Linked DNA regions of Homo sapiens: region 2 is linked to region 1. Evidence: fine-mapped expression QTL. Tissue or cell type: whole blood. Region 1 holds a variant in brackets; the other region holds the start of a gene. All regions are shown on one strand. Distances are between the middles of the regions.

The links. PIP is the estimated chance that this variant, and not a neighbour inherited with it, causes the effect.
Region 2: it holds the start of TMEM250, and the variant in region 1 is fine-mapped to the expression of TMEM250 in whole blood (TOPMed, PIP above 0.99).

What each region holds. Positions count from the first base shown.
Region 1 is chr9:136,073,275-136,081,333 of GRCh38, reverse strand. All of the region lies in intron 1 of NACC2 (NACC family member 2), which reads left to right. Among named protein-coding and RNA genes, the nearest start is that of NACC2, 18 kb to the left of the region's middle. RefSeq lists enhancers at 1-595, 5,948-6,698. The variant A/G (reference allele first, on the strand shown) is at 4,793.
Region 2 is chr9:136,115,738-136,123,796 of GRCh38, reverse strand. It overlaps TMEM250 (transmembrane protein 250), which reads left to right and starts at 4,922. Exons shown (of 2, transcript NM_152833.3): 1 at 4,922-5,312; 2 at 6,773-8,059. The coding sequence starts at 6,897. The coding sequence ends at 7,316. LOC107987142 (a long non-coding RNA gene) reads right to left here and starts at 6,005. Exons shown (of 2, transcript NR_165242.1): 1 at 5,895-6,005; 2 at 1-2,011. RefSeq lists enhancers at 3,520-4,094, 4,095-4,671, 5,825-6,400, 6,401-6,976 and silencers at 4,339-4,728, 4,759-5,808.

The DNA of each region.
Region 1 (8,059 bases):
GGGGGTGTGTGGTGTGCAGGTCGTTCCGGTTACTCTACAGTTCAAGCCCAGGCATGCTGACCCCTGCCCTGTCCTGCGGAGCCCCCAGTGCCCGTCGGGACTGAGTCCACCTGGTTCCTTCCCCTGGGTTTCCAGCGGCCTGGGTGGCTGGAGAGTCCCCGAGTGGCCACTGAGGGTCCGTTTGGTCTGGGCTTCCTCCTCTGGGAATGGTTTCCTGTGTTACGAGAAATATGGGAAACGCGCGTTTCTTCTCCCCGCAGCCGTTCGTGATCCGTGACCCTGGGCCCGTGGGGTTCTGGGATGAAAACTTCCTCCTCCATCACCTCTGTTAATCAGAATGTGCTTGGGGTGGGAGACAGCGGGAGGGGCTGCCACCTTGGACCTGTCCCAGGCCTGTGTCCCCCCGACCTACTCGAGCGGCTGGGGCTTGGCACCCTAGCACGCAGGGGCGGCTCTGCTGGGGGCCTGATGCAGCTGGCTGGAGTTTGCGCCGGGCACAGGCCGGCCTGTGGTCATCTGCCGTCTGCTCTCCCTGCATCCTCTGCAGTGACTCCGCTGGGGTCTGGGTGTGTGTCACGGCCCCCCGTCTCCACGTGTCTGGAGAGGAGGAGACCCCCAGCTAACCCACACTCCACGACCTCCAAATCAGATAAGCAAGAGCTCCGTGGAGTGTCCTTCCTGGGCTGATTCTGTGCGGTCTGTGGGGTGGGGGATGGTGTGCTGGCAGTAGCGTTGGAGTTTTTTTATTGGAGCAGGGTAGTGGGGAGATGGAGTTTCGCTGTTGTTACCCAGGCTGGAGTGCAGTGGCACGATCTCAGCACACAACCTCTGCCTCCCAGGTTGAAGCAATTCTCCTGTCTCAGCCTCCCGAGTAGCTGGGATTGCAGGCGTGCGCCACCACGCCCAGCTAATTTTGTATTTTTAATAGAGACGTTTTTAATACCCCACTGCAGTGGGCTGCTGGGCGGATTTTCCTAGAACCTGGGTTGGGTTTTGGATGCCCTGAGAGGTGGCATCCCATGTAGGGGCAGCGAAGGGGCCTGGGCTCAGAGAAGGAGAGCACAGAGATGGGTGCGGGGGCCCTGCTGGGATGAGGCTGTACAGGCTGGGGGTGCAGTACCGCTCTGGCACCATCCCTGGTGTGGCGTGGCTACAGGGCCCTGCCAGGAGGCCCTTGTGGTCAAACCGTTGGCTTTTGTGGGGCACAGTGGCATGGGCTTTGGCTGGCAGCCACGCCCGGGGTAGGGACTGTGTGTCTCTGCCAGCTGGGCCATGACTACAGTGGGTGGCCAAGGGTGTGGGCTATCAGGTCAGCCCCAGGCCTGGCCCAGGCAGCCCCATGGCCAGCAGAGCCCATCTGTAGCTCTCCAGGAGGGCCGCCTCTCCCTGGGGAACAGCTCCAAAAGCTTTCCTTGGGGAACAGGTGGCAGGGCTAGCGGCTCCTTCCACAGCACGGCTGTGGCCTGGCCCCTGGGGCCTTGGGGTCCTGGAAAGTTGAGACTTCCCCGGCTGCTGCCTGTCCTGGTGGCCTGAAATCTTACAGGCTTCAAGATTTCGTAACTTTCCTATTCCTAGTCGCAGAATGGGTAGTGGGAGGCCTGAGACCCATCTGGCTTCTGCAGCCACGCTCCAGGGCTCTGGTGACCCTGGAGTGCATTCGGGGAGTGCCGGCCACGGCAGGGCCCCAGGAAGGAGCTCTGGGGGGCCTCTGGCCTCTCTTCTGCCCTCGGTTGAGGGCCAAGTGGCCTTTCCACTCAGTGAGTCAGCCTGTTCCTTCGTGTCATTCTCAGCAGGCCATGGGGTGCCCATGCCTGCGGGTGAGGAGGGGCTTGCTGCCCCACCTGCTGGCGTCCAGCCTGTACAGCCTGGGGCCTGTCTGGAGATCCTGGTTCCTTGGCTGCACCTGCAGGGCCCCCGGAGTCCACGCATTGGCTTCTGCAGTTGGCATCCTGTGCTTGTAGGAGTGTCTCCTGCCTGGAAGCCAGAGGATGGCACCCCGTTCCATCAGGCCTGAAGGTGGCTGGGTGCCAGGCAGCCCTTCCTGGGTGTGGGACTCTGGGCAAGTGCCCTGCCTCTCCCTGGTCTCCCCCTCAGCTCAGAGAGTGCAGTTCCCACCCTGGGAGGATGTCTGCACCTTGCAGCCTCTTCAGCCCTTAGCCCTCTTGGCAAGAGCTCAAGCTTTCTCTTGTTAAGGACGGGACGCACAGACATACGTGAGTAGATTTCAGGTTACGTGCCCTAAACTAATACCGTGTGCACTTAAAAAAAAAAAAAAGAAGAAGCTATGATTGAAGTCAAATTAACATATTTACCTTCAGTGCTCCCTCGGGAACCGTTAGGGAATCGGAGAGGGGCGGCGGCGGCGCGGCATCATGCCGGCGACGGTGCTAAGGGCATCTGCTCCCCGTGGGGATGGGTGTGTGCTCCTGAGTTTGCCTTGGCTTCCCCTGCTTACCCACAAGGTCGCCTGGACAAGGGGCGAGAGGCCCTGCCCTGAGAGCCTCAGTTCCTGGAGGGGACCACGCTGGGGGTGCTTACTGGGGACCAGGATGCGGCGGTGGCTGTGGTGCCACACTCGTGATGACAGCCCTGCCTGAGGGGCTCGCTTTGCTCAGCTCTGATGTGGCTGAGATTCAGGTGCCTGACCTGTCCCCCAGCCATTCCCACGCCCCTTTCTGTCCCGATGTCGGGGCTGGGCTGGCCCCTCTTGCCTCGCACAGGTTTATGGCCTAGGAGTACATTCCCCTGGAGTCCCGTCTATGCATCCAGGTACGGTTCCAGGGCCAGTGAGCGGGCCACGTCCCACCTCCAAGCCTCAGTTTTCTCATCTGTACAGTAGGGTAATGGTATTTCTCCTGCGCTTACTTTAAGGATTAAATGGAAAAACCTGTATTAAGGATTGCCATTTAAAGATTAAATGGAAAAGCCTGGGCCTTTAGTTCCTGAAATGAGAGAGCCAGAATTATTTGGAGAACCTGCCCCCAGATGTGCCTGTCCCCCTCATGAATTCTGCATTCCGAGGGACTGAGCTTCGTGGAATTCTGGCGTCTTCTGGCCTGCAGGCGAGTGGGGCTGGCCACAAGGTTGCGGGGGGTGGGGGTCCTGGGGACCCCTGCCAGGTGGTGGGTATGCACCCGGCCTTGGGGATGAGGGTTTGAGTGGGTGCCTGGTCCATCCCACTCTCTACCACTGTGTCTGTAAACTCGTGCATGGATTGTTTAAAGATAGTACGGCAAACCTCGTGATTATAAAAGTATGATTGGGCCGGACGCGGTGGCTCATGCCTATAATCCCAGCACTTTGGGAGGCCGAGGCGGGTGGATCACGAGGTCAGGAGTTTGAGACCAGCCTGGCTAACATGGTGAAACCCCGTCTCTACTAAAAAGAAGTACAAAAAAACCCAAAACAAAACTATGATTGGACTGATATTATTTACGTGGTTTTCACTCCCAAAGGCACACCTTTGCGTATAAAGCACAAGTCAGTATTCATCACTGATTCCTTATTCACTTTTCAAACTACTTTCACTTACCTTTTATTACTTTATAAATAATTTTAAGCACAATTTTGTTGCCCCCTTGCCTGCTCCCCGGTGTGGGGGTGGCCAGAGTCCTTGGGGTCCCCTCGCATTTCCCGGGTGACCACACAGCTGCCCCCTGCTCAGGTGTCACCGCCTGGGGACCTTCTCCTCTGTGAAGGGCCTGTTCTGGGCTCTTGCCCCTCCCTCCTCTGTGCGTTTCCCTTTTCTTGATGGATTTGTAGAATTTGTAGAATTCTTTCCATACTCTGACCACACGCCCTTTGCTGAAGATACATATGTTGCAAAGGTCTGTCCTTCTCGGCTTGTTTTTTCTCTTAGTGTTGGTCTTTATTTTTCAATATTTTAATGAAGCACGACTTATCAACAATGTCCTTTGTGCCCTGTTAGGGTTTTTGTTGTTTGTTTGTTTGTTTTGCCAAAGGCCATGTTTCTCTTCTGCTTTTTTTGTTTTGTTTTGTTTTTTGAGACGGAGTCTTGCTCTGTCGCCCAGGCTGGAGTGCAATGGCGCAATCTTGGCTCACTGCAACCTCCACCTCCGGGTTCAAGCAATTCTCCTGCCTCAGCCTCCCAAGTGGCTGGGACTACAGGCGCCCGCCACCACGCCCAGCTAATTTTTGTTTGTTTTTTTCTCTGTCACCCAGGCTGGAGTGTAGTGGCGCAATCTCGGCTCACTGCAACCTCCACCTCCGGGTTCAAGCGATTCTCCTGCCTCAGCCTCCCAAGTGGCTGGGACTACAGGCGCCCGCCACCACACCCGGCTATTTTATTTATTTATTTATTTATTTTTGAGACAGAGTCTCGCTCTGTCGCCCAGGCTGGAGTGCAGTGGCGCGATCTCGGCTCACTGCAGGCCCTGCCTCCTGGGTTCACGCCATTCTCCGCCTAGTCCCAAGTAGCTGGGACTACAGGCGCCCGCCACCACGCCCGGCTAATTTTTTTTGTATTTTTAGTAGAGAAGGGGTTTCACCGTGTTAGCCAGGATGGTCTCGATCTCCTGACCTCATGATCCACCCACCTCAGCCTCCCAAAGTGCTGAGATTACAGGCATGAGCCACCACCAGGCCAATACATTTTTTAAAAATTGTAGTCAAATATACACAACATGAAATTCACCATTTTAACCATTTTTTAAGCGCACAGTTCAGTGGCAGTAAGAACATTCCCATGGCTGTCAACCCTCACCTCTGTTTGCAGAACGTTTTCATCATCCCTGACCGAAACTGCACCCATTGAACACCAACTCCCCTCCGC[A/G]GTCCCCCAGCCCCTGGAAACCTCCGTTCTGCTTCCTGTCTCTGAACTGTCCTGCTCTGTGCCCGCGTGTGAGTGGAACCCCGTGGCGTTGTCTGTGTGTGCCTGGTGGCTTTCACTCGGCATAGTGTCTTTGAGGTTCACCGGGCTGGGGGGTGCATCAGAATTTCATTTCATTTTTGTCGTGGTATGGGCAGGAAACCTGGCTCAGAGAACATTTGAGGAACTGGGTGTTTAGAGTCACTGAGGAGAGGAGGCTGGATAGATTGTTGGGTTAGTTACAGCACTTCTTCGAGTTCCGCAGGGCCGGGAAACGCTGCCCCTTGGGGTTCTCTTTGCTACTGGATGGAAATCATTTGCTTTTCTTTTGGTTGCATATAGGAGACTTAGGATGTCACGGGGTATGGGGTGTCATCACTACTGAGTTGCAAATCAGGCAGAGGCCGCGAAGGGTGCCTGTTTACTTTATTTCCAAGTTTTCGATGACTGTTCTTTGCAGGATCTCTTCGTGACCACACGTAACCTTCATGCAGGGCTTTGAGAAGCGGGTGTCTCGGAGTTTTGTCACAGATGCAGCAGAGGAGTGGGCAGCAGCCCCAGGGCCACAGGCACTGAGCACATGGAGGGCTGCGGGGCTGCTCCTGGGCGCTTTGTAGGAAAGCCTGGGTTCCGTTTTCAGCAGCCTCTCACTCCAGAGGAGATGACTTTGCTCTTATTGAATCTTGTGTCCCGAGCCTCAGAGCCCAAACCCAAGACCCCTGTCTCTGAGGTTTCACCGACAGGGCCTGTGGGTGTTGGGTGGGTCTCCTCCCCTGGGCGCAGTCTGCACGGGGGTGTCCTCCCCGCGTGTGGAAGACCGGGCACAGGGAGCTCAGGACAGCATCAGCACAGGTTTCCTGAGGGGGCCCTGCAGGCTCTGCTCCCGCAGGACCTGCGACCCCGAACCCTGAATGTGGGCCTATGCCCGATAAAAGAAGATGCGTCCTCAGGCACGACAGCCTGGGCTTGGCCCCAGCTGCGCGATCTGTTTGAGAAACTGTACCGCGATGTAGGAGACGGCAGGTTCACACGGAGCCGCTGCCGACGTCTACGAAAGGGAAACAGGCTCGGGGAGACATTCGCCTCCGAGTTCCAAGCCCGGGGAGAGTGGACACCCTGTAATGAGCGCTTCAGTCAGTTCGCAGCAGCCAGCCTCGGGGGAGCTAGGGAGGGCTTTCCCCCCAAGTATCCCAGCCAGGCGGCCGCAGCCAGCTCTCCCTCATCCCGGTCAGTGCCGGACTGGACCAGAATGTGTCCTGGAGTCCTGGCCACCTCCCTGGTGCCATGTGACAGCTGTCTGAGGCCAAGTCTGTGTGTGGGGGGCGTTGCAGCCTGCTGCACCCACACCTGGGGCTCCCCACTTCCTGGCCTGCCGCTTTGAGGGAGCAGAAGCCGCCATTGAGGACAAGGTGGAATCGGCTCATTTCACGCAGAACCAAGAGCGTCGGCCTGGAGGAGGTCACGTCCTCTACTGGGCCTCACGTCACTGTTTCGTGAGGATCCGATTGCTGTTCCCCCAGCCCCATACGCGACAGTGAGTGGGGGACAGAGCTCCCGGGCTCCCAGAAGGAGGCCGTGCGAGAACCCATTCCCGCCAGCATCCCCCGGCCCTGCCGACTCCGCCTCGGCTGGGAAGGCCACGCTTCCTGCCGCTCTGTGTGAGGTGTAGACGCCGAGGCTGAGTGATACATCCCCGAGCCCCGCAGGTGAGCTGGGAACAGAATGTGACCACCGACATGGGCCCTCTGGGAGTCACAGGGGATGGTCGTTCGGAAGGTCCAGCTTCATCTGTCGGTGCAGTTTAGGGTGTGACTTGGTGGAGGCACGGTCAGTATTGAGTCAATGTTGAACCAGAGATAGGTTCCTTGAGGAAGGCAGGCAGCCTTGCTGTGACAGAACGAGGAATGGTTTTGACCTGTCCGTCTGTGTTAATTGAAGGGATGATACATAATTTTAAATAACCTCAGAAATTATTAACATCTTTATAAAGAACCTTAATGTTTCTGGAATGAAGAACTTTGTTTTCTTTTTCTTCTTTTTTCTTTTTTTTTTTGAGACGGAGTCTTGCTCTGTCGCCCGGGCTGGAGTGCAGTGGCACAACCTCGGCTCACTGCAAGCTCCGCCTCCCGGGTTCACTCCATTCTCCTGCCTCAGCCTCCCGAGTAGCTGGGACTACAGGCGCCCACCACCATGCCCGGCTAATTTTTTTGTATTTTATTAGTAGAGACGGGGTTTCACCGTGTTAGCCAGGATGGTCTGGATCTCCTGACCTCGTGATCTGCCCTCCTCGGCCTCCCAAAGTGCTGGGATTACAGGCATGAGCCACCGCGCCTGGCCATGCCTGGCTAATTTTTTAACAAATTATTTGTGGAGACTATAATCTTACCATCTCTCCTGGTCTCTCACTCCTGGACTCAAGTGATCCTTCTGCTTCAGCCTCCCAAAGTGCTGGGATTCCAGGCATGAGCCACTGTGCCCGGCCAAGATCTTAATTTTTTTAAAAAAATAGTCAAGGACATGACGGAGTCTGTGCAAATCCCTGTTGGTTACTTCGGTGAGAGCCAGGGTCTGCTTTCAGGGCAGAGGGAAGGATCACCGCTTACTGCTGACCCTGCTTCTGGGCAGACCAGATACTCCAAGACCAGGCAGCATTTTAGCAGACAGAACACCAAATCCTGCTTGGACGCAAATGCAGTACTTGGCAGTAGAGGATGCATAAGCACCTTTAAAACAATTAGGAATAGACCCATTGAAACTGAGCAAATTGTGCCAAAATTGTAGCACACACGCAGCTGCTTTTCATACTCCTTATTTCCAGGTATTATGAACCGAGGGAAATCAAGTCGACTTTCTGCAAACATTCTTGGGTTGTCCATACATCCACTGGAGTCTTTTGTCTTTTCCTGTTCTCTTTGGCATTCGAGACCAATTGTGCATTTCACTTTGAGACAAGCGCCTCTTCTCCCCTGATGGGCAGGACTATACTCTGATACAGCTGGATCCACGCTCACACCCCCTGTCCACTGCAGCTCCTACTGGGGTCCTCATTTTTTATTTTTTATTAAAAATTTTTTTTTTGAGACAGTCTTGCTCTGTCACCCAGGCTGGAGTGCAGCGGTAAGACCACAGCTCACTGCAGCCTTCACCTCCTAGGCTCAAGCGATCCTCCCACCTCAGTCTCCCAAGTAGCTGGGACCACAGGTGCGCTCCACCATGCCCAGCTAGTTTATT
Region 2 (8,059 bases), 42 kb before region 1:
TCCTGTGTACTGCGTCTCCTTCCCTGGCCTCCTGTGTACTGCGTCTCCTTCCCTGGCCTCCTGGGTGGCTCAGCTCTGTGGGGCCACAGGCCCCACCCCACCCCAGAGACATGGAGAGGGGGTTTGTCATTGAACTTGAAGTCGCACTGGCTCTGTCCAACGACCAGTTAAAATGACTCTGGAGGTTTCCATTCTCTCCCATCCCTTCCCCTTCCCTGGCCCGAACCCTGCAAGGTGGCTGGTGTCAGAGATAGGACTCTCTAGGCCTCTACTGTCCTGGCAGCAAGAGCCACTCCCTGCCAGGACCCTGAAGTCAACCAGCTGGATAAAGTCCCCACAGTGACCCCATCCTTGGCCCCCAGCCCCAGCAAGTGGAGGGACAGAAGGACGGTACTGGAGGGGTTGGGGTGGGCTTCAACATGTCCCACAACCAGGGGTTGCATTCTTTCCACCCACTCAACCCACCTGCTCAGCACGCGCCCTGGGCCGGCCTCGGTGGGGAAAGTGCTCCTTCCAAGCAGGGGTTGGCTCGCTGTCCCTGCAAAGGTAGGACAACCCCAGGTGTTCCCAGCCGCACGGCCAGGGGTCCCGTCCAGCTTGGGGGCTCTGCGTCGGCAGCGAGCACCACATTCGGCCCCAACTTAAAGTCTCCCACAGACCTGGAGCCGCTGGGTCCCTCCTGCGCTTGGCGGCACCACAGGCACCAGCCCAGCAGATGGCGCCAAGCCACTGTCCACAGCGCAGCAGGAGGCCTGACGGGGACAGGGACGGGGACAGGGAGGCTATGGGGACCCCGGCTGGACCTCACACGTCAGGACAAACCCGTGACAAATCCCCAGCACACGGTGGTTCTGGGGTGACCGAGCTGTGGCCAGGCCGGGGGCGCAGGAAGGCGCAGAACCCGGGAGTGGGCAGAGGACCAGAAGCAGCTGCGGCCGGGGAGGAAATCGGTGTCCTGGGAAGCTACTTGCGCTGTGCACGCATGGACTGGGTCACGAGGCCAAAACCCACGGTGGCCACGGCAAGAGAGCCCTGGGCCAGCGGAGACACAGGCCACCAACAGGCGGGGGTGGCTTTGTGTGAGGAGGAAGGGGAGGCAGGAGACAGGGGACAGGGGGTGTGACGGAAGGGGCAGCCCAAGATTGAAGGCGCCTCCCAGAGATGGGGCATTCGAGCTGGGTCCTGAAGGGCGAGTAGGAGCTCGGAAGATGGAGAAGGGACAGAGAGAGAGAAAAGGCAACTGTAAAGAGGTCCAGGCTCCTGCCCTGTACCCTGGTTTCACAGGGAGGTAGGGGAGGCTGGCGGTTCTGGAGGGTCAGCCAGGGAAGGGCGACCCCCACTGTCTTCTGTGAAGGGTGCCAAGGGGTGGCCTCAAGGACAGCGTCCAGCCACGAACACAACCAAGATCAGAACCCACACCCGGGGCACAGACGCTTCCACGTGTGTGGAGCTTACAGATTCTCCAAACCGAAATTCAAGGCAGACAGATGGGACTTGCCCTATAACCCAAGGCACATGAAGCGTTTCCCCGACCATGGCGCCTCTGCTGAAGTCAAGTAATAAACAACTCCGCACTTAAATACTCATTCTCCTGGAAAGGGCAACCAGGGCTCCCCCTTACTGTCCCCTCACCCCAAACCCCAAGTGATATCCCAGCCTTGGAAGCAATGGGCAGCAGCAGCAGGGTTAGCCCGGGAAGCCACCCTCACAGCTAGAGTGGTCATCCCCATCCATGGGCGAGCAGAGACTGGCGGGGCAGGTGGCTGACCAGAGAGTGTGGAACCATCAACACAGACAAGGCGACAAGGGGACAGCTGCACCCTTTGGGAATTCAGGACACAGAACCCTCCTGTAGGGAGAAGCACGTGACTGCGGGCCCAGCCTGAGGTAGTGGCGAGTGGGGGCCCCAGCTTTCCTGGAGATTCTAATACAGGAACATGTTTCAGGACACTCGGGCTGACATGCACTTCTTTTTATTTGTCCAAATCCGGCTTTTTTTTGTTTGTTCATGCTGAAAAAATAAAATCAGAAAGTACAGAAATGTTAAAAAAACAGTAAAATATATTCATCTCTTTAATCCCACCACACATAGATCACCTCTGCAAACATTTATCTGCTTCCAGGACTTCACCCAGAAACGGACACCTAGGAGTACGTCTGTGCTGATGAGGGGTCACACTAGACGTGACTTTGTGAACCACTTTTTTTTTCTTTTTTTTCTTTGTTTTGCGACAGTCTCACTCCGTTGCCCAGGCTGGAGTGCAGTGGCGCAATCTCCGCTCACTGCAAGCTCCGCCTCCTGGGTTCATGCCATTCTCCTGCCTCAGCCTCCCCAGTAGCTGGGACTACAGGCGCCCGCCACCACGTCCAGCTATTTTTTTTTTTTTTTGTAGTTTTTTAGTAGAGACGGGGTTTCACTGTGTTAGCCAGGATGGTCTTGATCTCCTGACCTTGAGATCTGCCCACCTTGGCCTCCCAAAGTGCTGTGATTACAGGCGTGAGCCACCATGACCGGCCTATGAACCACTTTTGACTCAGCCTGGGGGACTGTCTTCTGGGCACAGCTGGCAGTGGGTTCACCTGACCCTGTTTAGCAGCAGAAGCTTCAAGGCCTGTTCCTAATTTTGTATTTTCTTAAGGAAGGTCCCTTAAACCACAGAAGCCTCAGGCCCCACAAAACCTGCATCCGCCCCTGGCTGCAGGACACTCCAGGGTCTGGATGCAGCCAGGGCCAGCCACAGCCTCACTAGCTGACCGCACCTTTAAAAGTACGCGCATTGGCAGCTTTGTTCTGACGGCCACACCCCCCAAGAGACCTCCTTGGCCTTTGGCTTGGGTGATGCTGACCCACATGGAGGGGTCTCTGGCCCAGCAGTCCTGGGACATCCCCTGTATGAAGACCATATGTCTGACATGGCACTTGCCACCCTTTCTGGTCATTTGCCCCTCAGCCTGTCCCTGTCACAAGATGACAGGTGCCTCGAGGGTGGGGGCTCTGCTGTGCCTGTGTCCTTGGTACCCAGAGCAGGGTAGCAGCGTGGGGGCAAGTGCAGGCACGCATGCTGTGCTTCTCTGGGCGGGTGCACAGTGGGAAGCAGGGGGTGTCTAATCCAGAGCTGGAGTCAGGGGACTGCAGGGCAGGGAGGACACGGGAAACCCACAGCAAGGAGCGGGGCTGTGGCTCTGCTCCTCCCATGGCACAGCCACCAGATGGGCCAGGTGTGAGCCCTGATCCATGGACATGCGACCACCCTCACCAGCACGCGAAAAGTCGAGTGACGGGTGACCACCTGCTTTACACGCCACCCTCTATCTGGCCACGGGCGCCATCTCACGGTGCCGGCGTCCCAGCACGAGCCACATGGGAGGGGAGAATTATCTTTGGTTAGTTTGTCTCTAATAGTCCTTAAAACAGAAGACAAAAAATGAAGACAGGCATCAAGATGCTATTATCTCAATGTTTATATATTTAAAATGTTTTATTTATTTTTGTGGAGGCCATGTTGCCAGCCAGGTCGCCCAGGCTAGTCTTAAAACTCCTGGGCACAAGAGATCTGAGGCCGGAATGACAGGTGTGAGCCACCACGCCCAGCCTTATCTCAATAGCTAAACGTGTGGATCTGCCTCACATCTGGAGAGGCAGAGAGGTGAGCCACCAACAGGACTATTGAGGAAGGAAGGAGACCTGTTTATTGATTTTAAGTTTTTTGTAGAGACAGGGGCCTCACTATGTTGCCCAGGCTGGTCTCAAACTTCTGGGGCAAGTGATCCCCCTGCCTTGGCCTCCCAAAGCGGTGGAATGACAGGCGTGAACTAGCGCTTCTTGCCTGACACGTTTCTTTCGGAATATTTGCCGCCAGCCATCGGTAAAGAAAACAGGCTCTTGGCCTTTTTTGCTGTGCTACCTCCTGGTGGCCTTTGCTCGTCCAGATGTTCCTCGAACTCCTGCTCATGTCGGGTAAAGGCGGCTCTCTCTCCTGTGGCGGGGATGGGGCCACAGTGGAGAAGGTAGCTGTGCCAGCCCTCAGGGCGGCCCTGGTCCAAAGGACAGGGGCCCAGGAGCCAGCTCGCCGTCCCGGGAGGCCTGCAGCCAATGACGGGCCTGGTGGGCAGGAGGGCCCAGCCCCCTTGTTCCAGTGCCTTGAATTTGAAGGGCCACCCACTTTACGGTCGCCCCAGGGGCTGCTGACCCTGCCTTCCCCTCCTACCCAGCAGCCACACCCAGGAGCGCTCCCCAACACATTCCTCGCTGGAAACCCCCAGGACAACCGCCAGCCTGTACGAACCAGGCGTGAGGACACTAACACAAGTCCCCTTCCTTCACTGGGGGGCGGCGGGGGGGCGGCCCTGGGGCTGCTGCTGGGCCTGCTCGTGCTCCGGGGCTGTCCCTACTTCGGCTGCCGACGTCGCCGCCGGCCCACCGGGCCTCGCAGCTACACACCCGATCCGTGCCGCCCGGGTCCGCGTGGCGTCAGCCGCCCCCACCCTTCCCCGCCCTCCTGGAGCCTGGGGGGCGCCCTCATTCCCGCCGCCGCCCTGTCCTCCCAGCCCCAGGCCGCGCAGGAGGCCTTCGCACACGGCCCCGCGAGGACCAGACCTGCTCCCGGTCCCTGGGCCGCCCACCCCCGCCGGGAAAGCGGCTTCCTCCGGGGCCCGGCCCCACCCCAGCGACGGCAGCAGCGCGCCGGGTCGCAGACACCTCAGTCCGGGGCCAGGACCACGGTCAAGCCCTCTGCTGGGGCCAAAGGACTGCTCCACGGAAGCGCGCCTGCGCACTGCCTCTCCACGGGATGCGGTAGCGCGTGCGCGGAGGCGCGGCCCAGGAACGGCAAGCGCAGGCGCAGAAGACCAGGCGCGGCACCGAGGGCGTTCGGGGGAGGGAACGCTACGGACTGCTCGCAGCGTGCGCACGCACGCACGCACGCACGCCCTCGGGAAGCGACGAGTCCGGGACGCCCAGCGCGGGCCCGGAGCAGGGGGAAGGGAAGTGCGGCTCGGTCGGCGCGGGTGGAGGGGGCGTGAGGCCGCCCTACGGTGGCCGTCGAGGGACGGCGCTACGGCTCCCACGCTAGGCCAAACGCCTCCGGCGGCCGCGCCCGAGAGCCCCTTCACCTGCAGGGCGACCCCAGCCGGCGACGCGTGAACCACGCCCTCAGCCGCCTTGCCAGCGCCCCCAGCCGCGCGCCCCAGCACCATGCGGCCGCCCTGCGCACGGAGCCCCGAGGGACAGGGGCACCCGCAGGCCCGGCCCCTAGCACCGCCGGCCGGCCCCGAGGTCCGGGACGCCGGCGCCGCCGCGGAGAGGGCACCGGGTGAGCTGCGGTCGGGGACCCGGCCTAGGCGGGGGCCGTCTCCAGGGCAACGCGCGGCGCGGGACCCGGAAGTGGCTCCGGCAGGGGCTCTGCAGCCAGGGGGCCCGGCGCGGCGCGGCGCAGGCCCGGTGCTCACGCGGAGTTGGCCGGGGCCCGTTGCGTCTCTGCGGCCCCGAGGAAACAGTCCTGGGTCCATGGGCCGGGCCGAGCGGGCGTCTGCAGAAACGCAGGGACCCGGATGGAGCCGCGGGCCGCGAGACCCTGCGGGGACACAGCTCCGCCGAGTCGCGTTTGAGTGGCACCGCCATGGCCGGGGTCCCGGCCGGGGCGAGCTCCAGGCCAAGGCCGGCCTTAAATAGGGCCGCTCTGGCCCCTGCACCCCGTGGAGGAGCCGGGCGGAGGGAGAGGGCGAGGTCGGGCCCCTGCGGGCACGGGAGGGTCAGGCGGCCCCGGCCCCTCCCTCCTCCGCCCTGGCCAGGTCCCCACGGCAGGGCCCCAGGCTGAATCTGAAGGCAGGCGAAGCTCTTGGCAACAGTCCCCTGTAATGTTACCAACTTTCCTGCTCAGATTTTATTTCCTGACCTTTGAGTTCATTCCGTCTACAGATTATTTCGGCAAGGTATAAACGGCCTTTACTAGGTGAAGCTGGAGAGCCAAATGCCGCCTCTGCTCTTTGCAGCCCAGTCTGTAAGGGCCGCTGCCAGGCCCCGGGCCGACCCCACTGTGCACGCCAGGCCCAGCCCCTTCCCTCCCACAGCTACCCACAAAGGCAGTGCTATTGGCACCCCCATTGGACAGAGCAGGAGCCGTCTTGGGGTCAGGTGACCTGCCCAAAGTCACTGCTAGGGAAGGACAGTGCCAGGGTTCAGGCCCAGCAAGGTGACCCCACGGCCCCCGAGCCGTCCATCTGGCACCCAGCAGGTTGCTGGAGTCACCTGCTCCCGCCGGGCTCGTTTTCGGTTCACCTGCGAGCCCTGGAGTCCCTTTTCCCGGCCCTGTGGTGGCTTCTTGCAGATGCCATTTAAGGGCTTGCATCAGCCCTGGGTCAGGCAGCCGCAGAAGACCAGGGCAGTAACGGGCAAACTGCCTAAGAGCAGAGTGTGGTCCAGCTAGTGGGGAGCTGCGAGGATCCTGCAGGAAAGAGCCACTCTTGCCCCTTCCCATCCGTTTTGGCATTGACCACTTCCGGGGGCCTCCCCTGGCCACTGTCCCCAAGGCCCCCTTTCCCCAGTGCTGCCCTAGAACAAGCACTTTGGCTTCCCCAGGTGGTGGGCCCCTTGGAAGTATCCTTGGGAGGGTTTGTGGAAAAGAGCCCAGGAGTGCCTGCAGATCCCGCCCTGGACTCCATTTTCCCGTAGTCCTGGTGCTGGAGTTTGTGTCCACTTTCGCCAGCTGATTGCCTGGGGAGGGATCCGCATGGTGTCCTCATACTGACGTGGGTTTTGCGGCTCTCCCCGCAGGCCGACGCCTCCCCCCAGGGTCAGCTGCGGGCTCCCAGGCCTAGGCGCCCATGACCCCTACGCCAACAGCCGCCTGGACACCGCCGCCGCCACTGCGACCTAGCGCCGCCGCCGCCGGGGCCCAATGCCGGTCATGCCCATTCCGCGGCGGGTGCGCTCCTTCCACGGCCCGCACACCACCTGCCTGCATGCGGCCTGCGGGCCCGTGCGCGCCTCCCACCTGGCCCGCACCAAGTACAACAACTTCGACGTGTACATCAAGACGCGCTGGCTGTACGGCTTCATCCGCTTCCTACTCTACTTTAGCTGCAGCCTGTTCACTGCGGCGCTCTGGGGTGCGCTGGCCGCCCTCTTCTGCCTACAGTACCTGGGCGTTCGCGTCCTGCTGCGCTTCCAGCGCAAGCTGTCGGTGCTGCTGCTGCTGCTGGGCCGCCGGCGCGTGGACTTCCGCCTGGTGAACGAGCTGCTCGTCTATGGCATCCACGTCACCATGCTGCTGGTCGGGGGCCTGGGCTGGTGCTTCATGGTCTTCGTGGACATGTGAGGGCCGTGGGTGCGAGCTTGATGTATCGTCCCGGCCTGTGGCTGTGTTCTCTCCATGGGTGGGGTCGGCCAGCGCCTTCCCTTCGCCCATCCCCCAGGCAGTCGCTGCTGCCCGGCGCCCACGGAGAGAAAAGAAAGGGCTGAGACTTCTGTGATGGGGGCGCGGACACCACCCCTAGGCTGGCTTCCTGGACCCACCCTCCCCGTATGCACTCTCAGGGGCAGCGCCCACCTGCCGGTGGCTCCTGCTCACATGTCTTCGGGTCGTACTGCGGGGTGGGCCCTCCGTTCCGCCTCTCTGTGGGCCTCTCTCCAGGACCACAGCTGCCAGGGACTTTAGACATCACCCTGGGAGGCCCCTGGACACAGAGGGCTGTGTGCCCAGGAGCAATTCCGGAGGGGGGCCCTCCTGGCTGCACAGCCCCTTCTGCGTGCCCTGGCCCCAGCCCCAGCCAACGGGACACGGAAGGCTCCCCTCGCTGACACACCACACTGCCACAAAGCTGCTTACTCTGCCCTGGGCCGCCTGAGGCCTGGCACTGCCCGCGGACCACCCTGTGTGTGTCATCCTGAGGGGCTGTGTGGGTCCTGAGTCCCCAGCCAGCCTTCAGGGTCCCCTTGGATTGTGTAGATGCAGTCTAGCGGGGGGCCGGAGAAGGGCTCAGGTGGGAGGGGCCTCAGCAGGCTCCCAGCTCAGGGGCTGGCCTGGGGGGAACCCTGGGAGCCAGGGGCTGACTCCAGCAA